Homo sapiens: one gene and its partners. The protein of the gene in region 2 purifies or fractionates together with the protein of the main gene of each other region. This does not show direct contact. Each region holds a gene or a part of one and is shown on either strand. Other genes may lie near its edges. The genes, in order: DNAJC13, MAP10 and MIB1.

Region 1 (3,653 bases), on a different chromosome or scaffold from region 2:
CTCTACAAAATAGATATAACAGTAATAACTTCTAAAGTTCATTGGAAGACTGAATAATATATGAAAAATTCATAGAATAGTACCTGAAACACAGAAAAAAATTAATCATTATTTATTAAACAGCTTGACAAGGCCTGTTAAGGATAAAAATTAAAATTAAACATGAATATTATCCTCAGGAAGCTGACAGATTGAGAAAAATACATCATGTTTAGAAATAGCAATAATTCAAAGAAGAAATTGCTAAGAAAGACAAGTGTAATATTTATGAAGGGTAATCTCACTTCAGGGAGGGATACATCACTACCACCTTCAGGAATAAGAAAGCTCCATTTATTTTTAAAATTTTATTTTAATTGTTGTGGGTACATAGTAGGTGTGTATATTTGGTAAGCTTCATTTAAAAGCTGACTTGAGCTCTTAATGAATAAGCAGGGAAAGAATTCTGAGCAGGGAGAATACATGAAATATTAAAAAATATATACATTGGTCTCCATCCTTGGCTCCTGACATAGAGCACCTAAAACCCTTGCAGACAGGGGCACTAGCAGAATCTTTTGTTGCAACAGTCTTTTACCCTGGTTCCTGACACAGAGCTCCTAAGAACTTTGCAATTTCCTGATAGGGGAGCCTGACACAAAGCTCTCTACCATTAGAATTTCCTGGGTAATAGGAACATCTTTTGTTCGAATAAAGCAACTCTCCATATCATTGTTAAGTTCTAGTTATCTCACTACTTGTTTGGAACAGTAAATAAAATTAATTTGCTTTTGGGAATGCAAGGTTTTACAGAAGTATTTACTTATGTTTATGTACGACTAAGCTTGCCTAAAACACTTTATATAAGGAAAAGTCCCAGGTACTACACACAAAACTGAGATAATCAGAAACTTCAAAACTGTACTAAACAATTGTTTCTCCCTCTGTACAAGCTGCCACTAAGTTAGATCTTTACTGCGCAAACAGCTTTCAGGTGTGCTGCTTCTTTAGCCCTGTGACTACCCTAGCTCAGCAACTCATTTCTTACGTGACAATTTGGTCTACCTGCCTCTAATTTTACTTCTATTCTCCACATACTACCAGTGTGGGTTTTTAAAAACTCAAACCTGATCACATTACTGCTCTCTTGCTAAAAAAAATCCTTCAGGTGTTCCTTACAAAAAGATAAAAATCTAGCTCCTCCCTCCTGATACAGAAGGTTTTTTATTACTGTCTGCATACATCTCTAGCTGCAACTCCTAATTACCCCCCATCCATACCTTATAACCCAACCATATTTAATTATTTGTTGCTTTCCAAACATGCCTTTTTATATGCTATTCCCCACCCAGGAAGGCCTTTCCAGAGCTAGAAAATTCCTGCCTGTCCTTCAAGATTCAGATCAAATGTAACATCTTCCAGAAAGACTGGGTGAGAATCTTTCATCTTCCCCTCATCACCAAACAAAAATAAAGTGCTGCTTTTCAAGATCCTATGGCCCCTACTACCTTACCTTGTACAGATATGCCTACCTTACCAGACTGTCAACAAAGTGAGGAAGAAAAGAACTTCTGTCTTAAGATCTTTGAATTTCTGGCACACAGCACATTGCCTGGTATTTAGGATATGCTAAACAAAGGTTTGAGTAACTATGAGAACAATTTATGAAACAGAAACAAGAACTTATTGGTACAATGAAAATCTGGGACTGTGGAAATCAAAACCACCAGTCAACTTAAGAAAAACCAGTTTCCTTAAGAAAACTACTACTTACACACATAAGGGCACAAAGCATATCAACTGCTGCATGGATTATTCCGTTGTTGCTTCTTTTGAGTGCTTTTACTACCTTCACCCCTAGACGCTCGCGAAACCTTTTGGAACAAAAAACAAGCATATACTAGCAATACCAGAACATTTTAAATTGTTATATTATTGAAATAGATCATATTAACTTTCCATTGCACTACTGGAACAATGACGTATTTTAAATTCCACCTCTGAAATTTATCAGTCTTCATAATAGTTTTTTCTTTGAGAGGGAAAATATTTTTTAGGGTTAACTAAAACTAAAAGGCATGTAATTTCCCATTCAAATTCAAGAGTCAGTTATATTACTGGTGAGTATGGGACCAATATTCCGCTTCTGCTGCCCTCACCTTCCTTTTTCATTTCTCATGAATAAAGTACCATATCACCCTATAAAAGGTATCTGGTTTAGTCAAGGAAAAGGAGGTGAATCGTTCATTATTTGCCATTTTGAGTAGTTCAAATTCTCTAAGAGAAGTTAAGTTTCAGAAGACAACTTACTTTGGAAGCTGAGTGAAAGCCAGGAAACCAGCTTTGGATGCCACAAGCCTCCTCACAGCCTGGAACTGACTCTCAAGTTCCGCATTTGAAGCAACGACATCCCCTTCTTGGGACAGTAATGCTGTTATGGCATTATTGATCAGTTTTTCTTTGTTTTCTGAGAAGAGACCCTAGGTGAAGAAAGAGTATTTCAAAAAAGTTTCCATACCAAAAGTTAGTAACAATGAACAATTATGATAAAACTTAGCTTACATCTTGTGTTACTGCATGTAGGACTCCACTGTATGAAATATTAGCATTGAACCTGAATACAGCATCTGCAAAGTTGCCATCTGTAAAGAGATTAAGAGGTTCAAAAAGAAGATACGAATTCCTAATTCTTAAATTAAGTAGATGAGTGGAAATGTAATTACATTTAAATCAATACTTACTTGGAGGCGTAGCTAAGAACCTGAGGTGAAGGCTCTCTACTTCCTCATCAACAGGCATGCTGAGTAACCCCCATCGCTGACCTTTATGGGTTGGTGTCATTTTTACACAAACATCTCTATTACCAGAGGCTCTTACTCCATCCAGCAAACTTGCTAATAAGGAATCTCTAAGTAAGATTAAAAGTAAAAAAAGGTTTTAGCATTGATGATTAAGGGGAATTTTGATCTAGCATGAAGCATAGGCCCTTTAGCAGGTAATCTGCTCAGGGACACACTACAGTTACAATGGGAAACACAAACAGTGGGGCTTTAGGAAGAGCTCTAATACTAGCTCTTCACCGTGCTGCTACATGACCTTGTACAAGTTACTTAAACACTAATTTTAATTTCTCTTTCTCTCCCTTTAAAATTATTTTTAACAGCTTTACTCGGTTCTAATTGACAAATCACAAGTCATCCAATTAAAACGTACAGTTTGATAATTTTTAATAAATTTATACAACTGTATAATCATCATCAGTTCTGATATATTTTCATCACTCCAAAAAATTTCCTTGTGCCCATTTGCAAAAGAACACTCCCCAGCCCCAGGAAACCACTGATCTATCTCTATAGTTTTGCTTTTTAAAGAAACTTCATAAAAACAGAATTATAGAATATGTAGTCTTAGGTGTCTTGCTTATTTTACTTATCATACATAGGCTTTTGAGATTCATCCAAGTTGTTGCATGTATTAGGTCAGTCCTTTTTTATTGCTGAGTAGTATTCCATTGTATGAACAGGCAACATTTTGTCTGTTTATTCACTGGCTGATCTAGATATGGATTGCTTCTGTTTTTGGCTATGAGTAATGATATTACGAACATTCATGTGCAAGTCTCTCTGTGGGCATCTTTTCATCTCTCTTGGATAGATACCTAAAAGTGGAACTGC
Region 2 (3,753 bases):
GAATACTTCAGTTCTGAGATGTTTTCATAGCAACTATTTTTACCTGTTCTCTTGTCACTTATATCAGCCATAAGAATGTCATTATCTGTGGTTTTGACCTGTCTAATATCTATTTCCTTATCTACAATTCTGTCAACAACAGCATCCTGTTGGAAAACACATGGACTTTGGATTTTCATTTCCACATTTCCTCCCAGAATATTTGTAGGGGTAAGCCTTTCTGGAATAATGGAATTTGCAGGACTCACAACTTCTTCCAATGAAACATTATTGATTCTATTTTTACTACAATCAACTGTCTTTTTTTCAGTTGCATATTTCAGTTTAGTTTCTTTACTTGTGCTGGGCTCATCAAAAACTCCACTGATTTGTCTTGAGGTATCACTATTTTCAGTGAAAGATGCATCTGAATCTAAATACTTATCTTCAGGCAGTTGTGGCTTCTGACTTTGTTCTGCAGAGCTTAATAGTTTAACTTTGGATGACGGAATTCTGAATTTTGTACCCAACATTTGTGATTGTCTTTTTCTATATAGTTCTCTTTTTTCATGTACCACCAACATATCAGGATTTGTCAGCTTTAAACGTAGTCTTAGTGTATTTGTTAAGCCATAAAGTAGCCTCCCTTTTGGAACTCTTTTATGGAGGGCACCACTGCTCTTTTCAGAATATTTATCTTCCTTATAGTTTTCAATTTGGTTCTTTTTATACTGAAGACTCACTGACTTTTCACATCCCCCCACAGAACGCTTATCCTTCTTGGCTTCAGACCGGCATGTGGATTTGGCAGAAGATTCGGGTGACTTCTTATCCTCAGTCCTATATAACCAGGCTAGGTGAGGATGTATATGAGCAGGACTTGTCACAGGTTGGTCATATAACAAGGACAACTCAACTAACAAAGCATTTAACAAAGGCAACTGCCTTATTGTATTAATTCGATTTTGTTCAGTTTGACATGTTTGATTAGTTGCTCCTATATTCTGAATATGTGGAGGATTTACAAGCATTGGAGGATGTTCGTGTGCTGCAGAACTTGGATGCTTTAGACAACTCCTGTGTGCTGGGGGATTTACACGCTTTTTTTCAGGAGAAGCATCATCCATTTCCTCAGGTGCATTCATTTGAGGCTCAATGGTGATTTTAGCCTGTGCAGGGGGCGGTTTTTCTTGGGTCAAGTTAGTGTAATACAAAGGAGGAGGGCAAAATATATTGGTCTCCATGTCCAATTCTGTGACTTCCTCATTTAGGGAGCTAACATTTCTCCCATTGCCAGCACCTGAACATGTAACAACAGAATTGGTTTTGCCATTCTCCACAGAACCCACATTATCACATTCGGCCTTACTTTTAACCATTTCCTTCAAATCCTTCTGTGCCTCTGGGATTTCTAACTCCCCCAGCGGCTTATCAGCCTCTTTTGGGCTTGGCTGTGAGGCTGGCTGCTGCAGCTGCTGTCTTTCCTGCTGGGTTTGGGGACTGACCTCCGCTCCTCCTCCTGTGCGGGTGAAGGTGAGGGGCCGCTCAAGTTGGCTCAGCAGGCGGCTTCCCAGGTCAGTCAGGCGGTAGGCCAGTGCAATGTCCCCAGTCCGCTCGCCCACTCGATTATGCAGGGGGAAACGTCCCCGGTGACGGTGGGAGCATCCGGAGGCGGCCGGCCCCACGACCCTGTGCGCTGCGGTGGCCAGCGAAATGTCGCAGGCCCCCAGGAGCTGTGGGGTGGGCGTCGGGCGCCCAGGGGGCAGCTGCAGCAGCAAGGTGGCAAGCGGGGTCCGCAGGAGCCGGCAGTGCAGGGTAGCAGGCTGCAGGCGGAAGAGGCAGGACTTGCCGCGACCGAAGCGGATGACACCGGGCCACGGTTCGGCGGCGGGAGCGCCGGGGCCGTCAGGAGGGTAAACCAACAGCGTGGGGAAGTCCAGCAGGCGGAAGGCCACGGCGGGGCACAGACCGCGCGGCGACGAGGCCTCCCCCTGCTCCTTTTCCTCCTCTTCCTCCTCCTGCTCCACTGCGGCAGCGGGGGACGGCAGCAGCCGGGCTTCCAAACGCACCCAGTCCACCAGCAGCTCCAGCGAGAAGAGCCGCTCGGACAGCGAGGCCGCCATTGCTGTTGCCCCAGGAAACGCCGCCGCGGGCTCCGCAAACGAGAAGCTGAAGCCCCGGGGTCTCACGAGAAACCGGAGCAAAAGGCATCGCTGCCTGCTATCTCGCGAGATTTGCGGAAGCGCTCCAGCGGGTCTCGGGCGGTGTCTGCTTTGGGGGTTTTGCTGCTCAATGTGTTTGGCCCCTTTGTATGCATACTTGTGAGCCGTTTTTTGCCACCAACCTTGTATTAAGACAATTGATGATAATGCTGAGGATATAAGTGGTAAAAGACAGTGAGTTTTTTGGGTAATGGTTTTATCACTGCAGATCTTATGTAACTTGGGGGTCAGATCAATATACCTGAGGAATATTGAAAGAAAATCAGGACTCTCCTTCCTTTCCCATGCTAAACAGAGCCAGTTAGTTAACTGTCCACAGTGGGCCATCTCTGTGTCTGCTGTTCTACCCAAAAGATGGTGACACTGCTGGGATGGCCAGGGAGCCCCTGCCTCATCAATTACAGTAGTACTGAGACAGACACACCACACACACACGGAGTGTGAATACACTGGCAAAAACTCTCCTTGGCTGAACTTTGGTCAGGCTCATCTAAGCCTTCTTTCCGACTAGGCCTTGACCTTGGCTTCCAATCCTGTGGACCCTGGATCACCGAGTTGTAGCAAAGGTCTCGCTACGGCTGTTGAGAGAGAACCCCCAACCCTTCATACCTGATTACCGTCGATACCTGATCAAATTCTTCATTTTCTATCATTGGTATCTGACCACCCTGGCCTGGCTTCAGCAAGAATCCTATTAGGCCTGCTTAATCAGAACCCTCCCACCCGTGATGTTCCCTATCAGTAAGTTTCCATCCACTTGACCTGACGCCCCCTTGGCTTTAAATCCCCACTTGTCCATGCTGTAATTGGAATTGAGCCCAGCTCTGTATTGAGGTCTCTTTTCTCTTATTGCAGTAGTTCCTGACTACAGTGTTTTTGCCACTTCAACTACTGTCTGGCCCTGTTTTTTATTTGACAACATTTCCAGCTAAGCAATCATGATGCATGAGAGTAATGTTAATGATTCCATCAATAAAACAAATGTGTGTACATAAATATACACACATCTACAGAGACACACAGAACTTGCTGCTCTATCCAGATATTTTAAGAAACATACTCCTAACCTCAATGAGCTAGCCAGCTAGGAATCCAAGGCCAGTTTTTGGAGAGCCTTGAATGCCATGGTAAAGAATTTGGACTATATTCTGTCCAAATTTTTTTGATTGAATAAGTACATCATAGCAATATTTGGAAATGTATCATGGGGAGGAATACAAAGGATGGATTCTACTAATTAGAAATTGGATTCAGAGCAATCTATTAGAAGACTACTGCAGTGGTCTAAGAGGCAGATAATTATGACCTGCACATGGTCAGGACTAGTGGAAATTAAAAAGAGGTGGCAGAAGAGGCATTTGTGATGGAGGAATTTTAAAATTTGGTGAATGGGAAAGAAAAGTCATGGGTGAAAAACTTCTGCTACTGAAGGTGAAAATATTGAGGAGGCACAGATTTGACGGAAAAAAATACTTTGAGTTTTGAGATATGTAAAGCTTGAGGTACCTGCTGCTGGGCATTATATATGTACCGCTTTATTCAGCTTTATAAA
Region 3 (3,653 bases), on a different chromosome or scaffold from region 2:
CAGAAGTTTGAGACCAACCTGGGCATTTCTACAAAAAATTAGCCAGGCATGGCAGCTCACACCTGTAGTCCCAGCTACTCGGGAGGCTGAGGTGGGCCCTGAAGGTTGAGACTGCAATGAGCCATGATCACGCCACTGAATTCCAGCCTGGGCAACAGAGCAAGACCCTGCCTCAAAAAAAAAAAAAAAAAAAAAAAAAGAATTCCTAACCCAAGTTCAATCCAACCATCTACCATCTACCTTCTACTCCTGTATCTGGCGGCACTAAAAATCTGTAGTGTTCAACCTGAAACGGGCTTCTAACATGATTGGAACACCCTTCTGCAGGTCCCCAAGTCCTTATCACTCTTCTCAATTACTCTTTCTCTACCCACCACTCTCAACAGATGAACTTGTCTCCCATTTCAGACAAAAAACGTCAGCAGGTATAAATCACCTCTCCTTACAGATTAACACCCCCCCAATTCTTCCCTCATCCTCCAATCCTGCCTCCCACTTACAAGGACATACTCTAGATCCCAACAGTTCCAAAACAGCTGCACTTCAAAAACCTTAATTTCTAATAATTATCTAGCTGAACAAAATCTATTCTTTCAGTTCTTCTCAAGCCCTCATTCCCACTACTACTGTTCTTTATTTCTTCTCTGAGATCTATCCAATCCAGCAACCAATTCCTGGATGCTGTAAATTATCTAAACTACAAGCAGCTTATGATTCTAACCACTGCCCTACTTTTTAAAAAATCATTATTGAGTTTCCAATGGAAACAAATTATGTTTTACATATTCAAATAGTATTTCAGGGAACACTTTTATTTAAAAATAATATGTTGTTTCAAGCCTATTCGGTTAAGGAACCTAAAAGTTGGCAAATTAGATTCAGGAGCTACAAAATTACTAAGTATAGAAACTTTAATCAAACAGGTGCACAAAAGACAAGTTGCTTAGTAACCAAACTAAGCAGAAAATGGACACAGACTACATTTTCTATATATTTGTGGTTTAATTTATCTGGTTATAAAACTGTAGCTGGGGATAATCATTTCTTAGGCAATCATTGCTTCAAAAATTAGATCCTACTGTAAATCAACTCTAAAATCCTATACATTTTCCAAAACAGAAATCTCCGAAGATTACACTAACGACTATTCAAAGTCCCTAAGCTACAATAAAAGCTACAATTAAAATAATTTAAATAGTTATGAAGTAACTATTATGAAATATAGCCTATTACACTTCTTTAAGCTGTTGAGCTCACTGTCATGATCAATAAAGTTAAATCCATTCATAAGCTGATATTTTTACAAAGAAGTCCTCATTCTCCCTGCCCAATCAAAACCCAATCTATTGGCATTTTCCCTAAAAAAAAACAACTTTTTAAAAAAGAAATAGCTGCCAATTTTGTAACATCTTACGCCTTTGGTATCATTTACTATGACATATGAGAACGGTAACAAAGGAATGCTTACCATAGAACTTAATGTTTCCCTTTAATAGGATCCTAGCAATACCTGCAGGATGTGTTTCTTTAAAGGTTTTACCTGGAGACTGGGATGACAGCCAAAGTCCAATAAAGTCTTCACAACTTGAAGATGACCTTTATTGACAGCAATATGAAGTGGTGTCTGTCGGCGCTTGTTTCGAGCATTCAAATCAGCACTACCTCGATGTAGTACTTCTATAACAGCGCCTTCATCTCCAAAAGCTGCATGGTGAACTGCTCTATCACCATCTTTATCCTAATCATTAGTATTGAAATGTGAATTAGTGAATATTTTAGAAAGAAAAAAACCTTGAAGCTATAATAATATACCAAGAAGCAGATTAATTTGAGAAAAGGCAATGTAGGAAACAACAAAATAACTAGAACTTGACCAGGTGCAGTGGCTCATGCCTGTAATCCCAGCACTTTGGGAGGACAAGGCAGAAGGATCACTTGAGGCCAAGTAAACTGTAAATGTGAGTAAGATTTCCAACAATACCAATCTGGGCAACATAGCAAGATCCTGTCTTGTAGAGAGAGCCAGGCATGGTGGCACCCACCTGTAGTCCCAGCTACTTGGGAGGCTGACACAGGAGGATTGCTTGAGCCAAGGAGTTTCAAGTTACAGTGAGCTATGATCGCACCACTGCACTCTGACCGGGGCAACAGAGTGAGACCCTGTCTCTATAAAAAAATTTTTTAAAACCTAGAAACTGACTTGAACAGTGACTAACTCCCAAAGATAAATGATAAACTTAGATCATTTTATATATATGTATTTATTTATTTATATATATACATTTATATATAATTTTATATATATATATATATATATATATATATATATATATATATATATAAAACCAACAGCTTGAACTTTCAGCATTCCTCATTTATCAGCCATGATGGTAAGCCAATTTTTTTTGACATTTAAAAATTTTTACAAAGACCATTTTTGTTGTTGTTGTTGTTGTTGTTTTTAAAGAATCAGGGTCCTAGGCCAGGCGCAGTGGCTCACACCTGTAATCCCAGCACTTTGGGAGGCCAAGGCGGGCGGATCACCTGAAGTTAGGAGTTCAAGACCAGCCTGGCCAACACGGAGAAAACCCGTCTCTACTAAAATTACAAACATTAGCCAGACATGGTGGCACATGCCTGTAATCCCAGCTACCCGGGAGGCTGAGGGAGGAGAACTGCTTGAATCCGGGAGGCAGAGGTTGCAGTGAGCTGAGATCGGGCCACTGCACTCCAAGCCTGAGCGACAGAGCAAGACTGCCTCTCAATAAAAAAAGAATCAGGGTCCTGTTCTGTCACCCAGGCTGGAATGCAGTGGCAGTCATAGCTCACTGCAGCCTTTAACTCCTGGCCTTAATAAATTCTCCAACTTCAGCCTCACAAAATGCTGGGATCATAGGTGTGAGCCACCGTGCACGTCCTACAAAGATGACACAAAAAGTAAACTAAGATGAGTTGTGTGATTGAAAAAAAAAAAAAGAATGCCAAACAATGTGATCTCAACTGGCTTTAATGGGGAGCAATTTATCAACACATTAAAACTGGTTAAGTGATGAGCATACATTTTTCTGTATATTCGAGAACAGAAAAAAAATTAAATACACCATTAAAAGATAAAAACGAAGCATAAACTACCAAAATTCCATATATCAAAAATTCCAAAACTATTTCAGAAGAATCAAATAGATTTGCCTCACCTCCTGTAACAGGCATATTTCTGAAGAAATGAGAAGGCAGGAAAGACCAAATTGCTTAAATTTTTTAAAACTAAAAGAAGGTACTTTATAAAGGGGAAAAACTGCCTGCACTGCGCCATGAAGGTAGTATACATAGCTTATACCAAAAAGTATGAAAAGAAGTCTCACTGCCTTGCCAGAAGCAGATGGAAAAGGGTAGTAGGTATAAGCGTATTGCATTTATTCCAATACTGCATTGCAAATTTTAACACCCACCAAGACCATGTGTCTGTCCCTGATCCTGGTACTCTAAGACTTCCTCCATCCAAAGCAGTGGTTTCCGATTCCCAATACCACTGTGCCAGCCCCTGGTGGACTCCCTAGTTTTGCAAGGGGTCTGACAATCCATATGGCACCCAGGATTATCTGAACTACTTTCAAAGAAAGCACAGATAAACACTGTTATGATTAAATGCACTT

The links.
Region 1: the proteins of MAP10 (region 2) and DNAJC13 purify together in Homo sapiens (affinity purification with mass spectrometry; one large-scale study listed by BioGRID and IntAct). This does not show direct contact.
Region 3: the proteins of MAP10 (region 2) and MIB1 purify together in Homo sapiens (affinity purification with mass spectrometry; one large-scale study listed by BioGRID and IntAct). This does not show direct contact.

Annotation. Positions count from the first base shown.
Region 1 is NC_000003.12:132,455,469-132,459,121, reverse strand, and holds part of DNAJC13 (dnaJ homolog subfamily C member 13), read right to left. Parts: intron 2,888-3,653; coding exon 2,721-2,887; intron 2,622-2,720; coding exon 2,542-2,621; intron 2,460-2,541; coding exon 2,290-2,459; intron 1,854-2,289; coding exon 1,754-1,853; intron 1-1,753.
Region 2 is NC_000001.11:232,803,799-232,807,551, reverse strand, and holds the start of MAP10 (microtubule-associated protein 10), read right to left. Parts: upstream 2,137-3,753; 5' UTR 2,103-2,136; coding exon 1-2,102. UniProt on the Homo sapiens protein: Microtubule-associated protein (MAP) that plays a role in the regulation of cell division; promotes microtubule stability and participates in the organization of the spindle midzone and normal progress of cytokinesis.
Region 3 is NC_000018.10:21,813,701-21,817,353, reverse strand, and holds part of MIB1 (E3 ubiquitin-protein ligase MIB1), read right to left. Parts: exon of another isoform or gene 3,459-3,653; coding exon of another isoform or gene 3,450-3,458; intron 1,739-3,449; coding exon 1,541-1,738; intron 1-1,540. UniProt on the Homo sapiens protein: E3 ubiquitin-protein ligase that mediates ubiquitination of Delta receptors, which act as ligands of Notch proteins.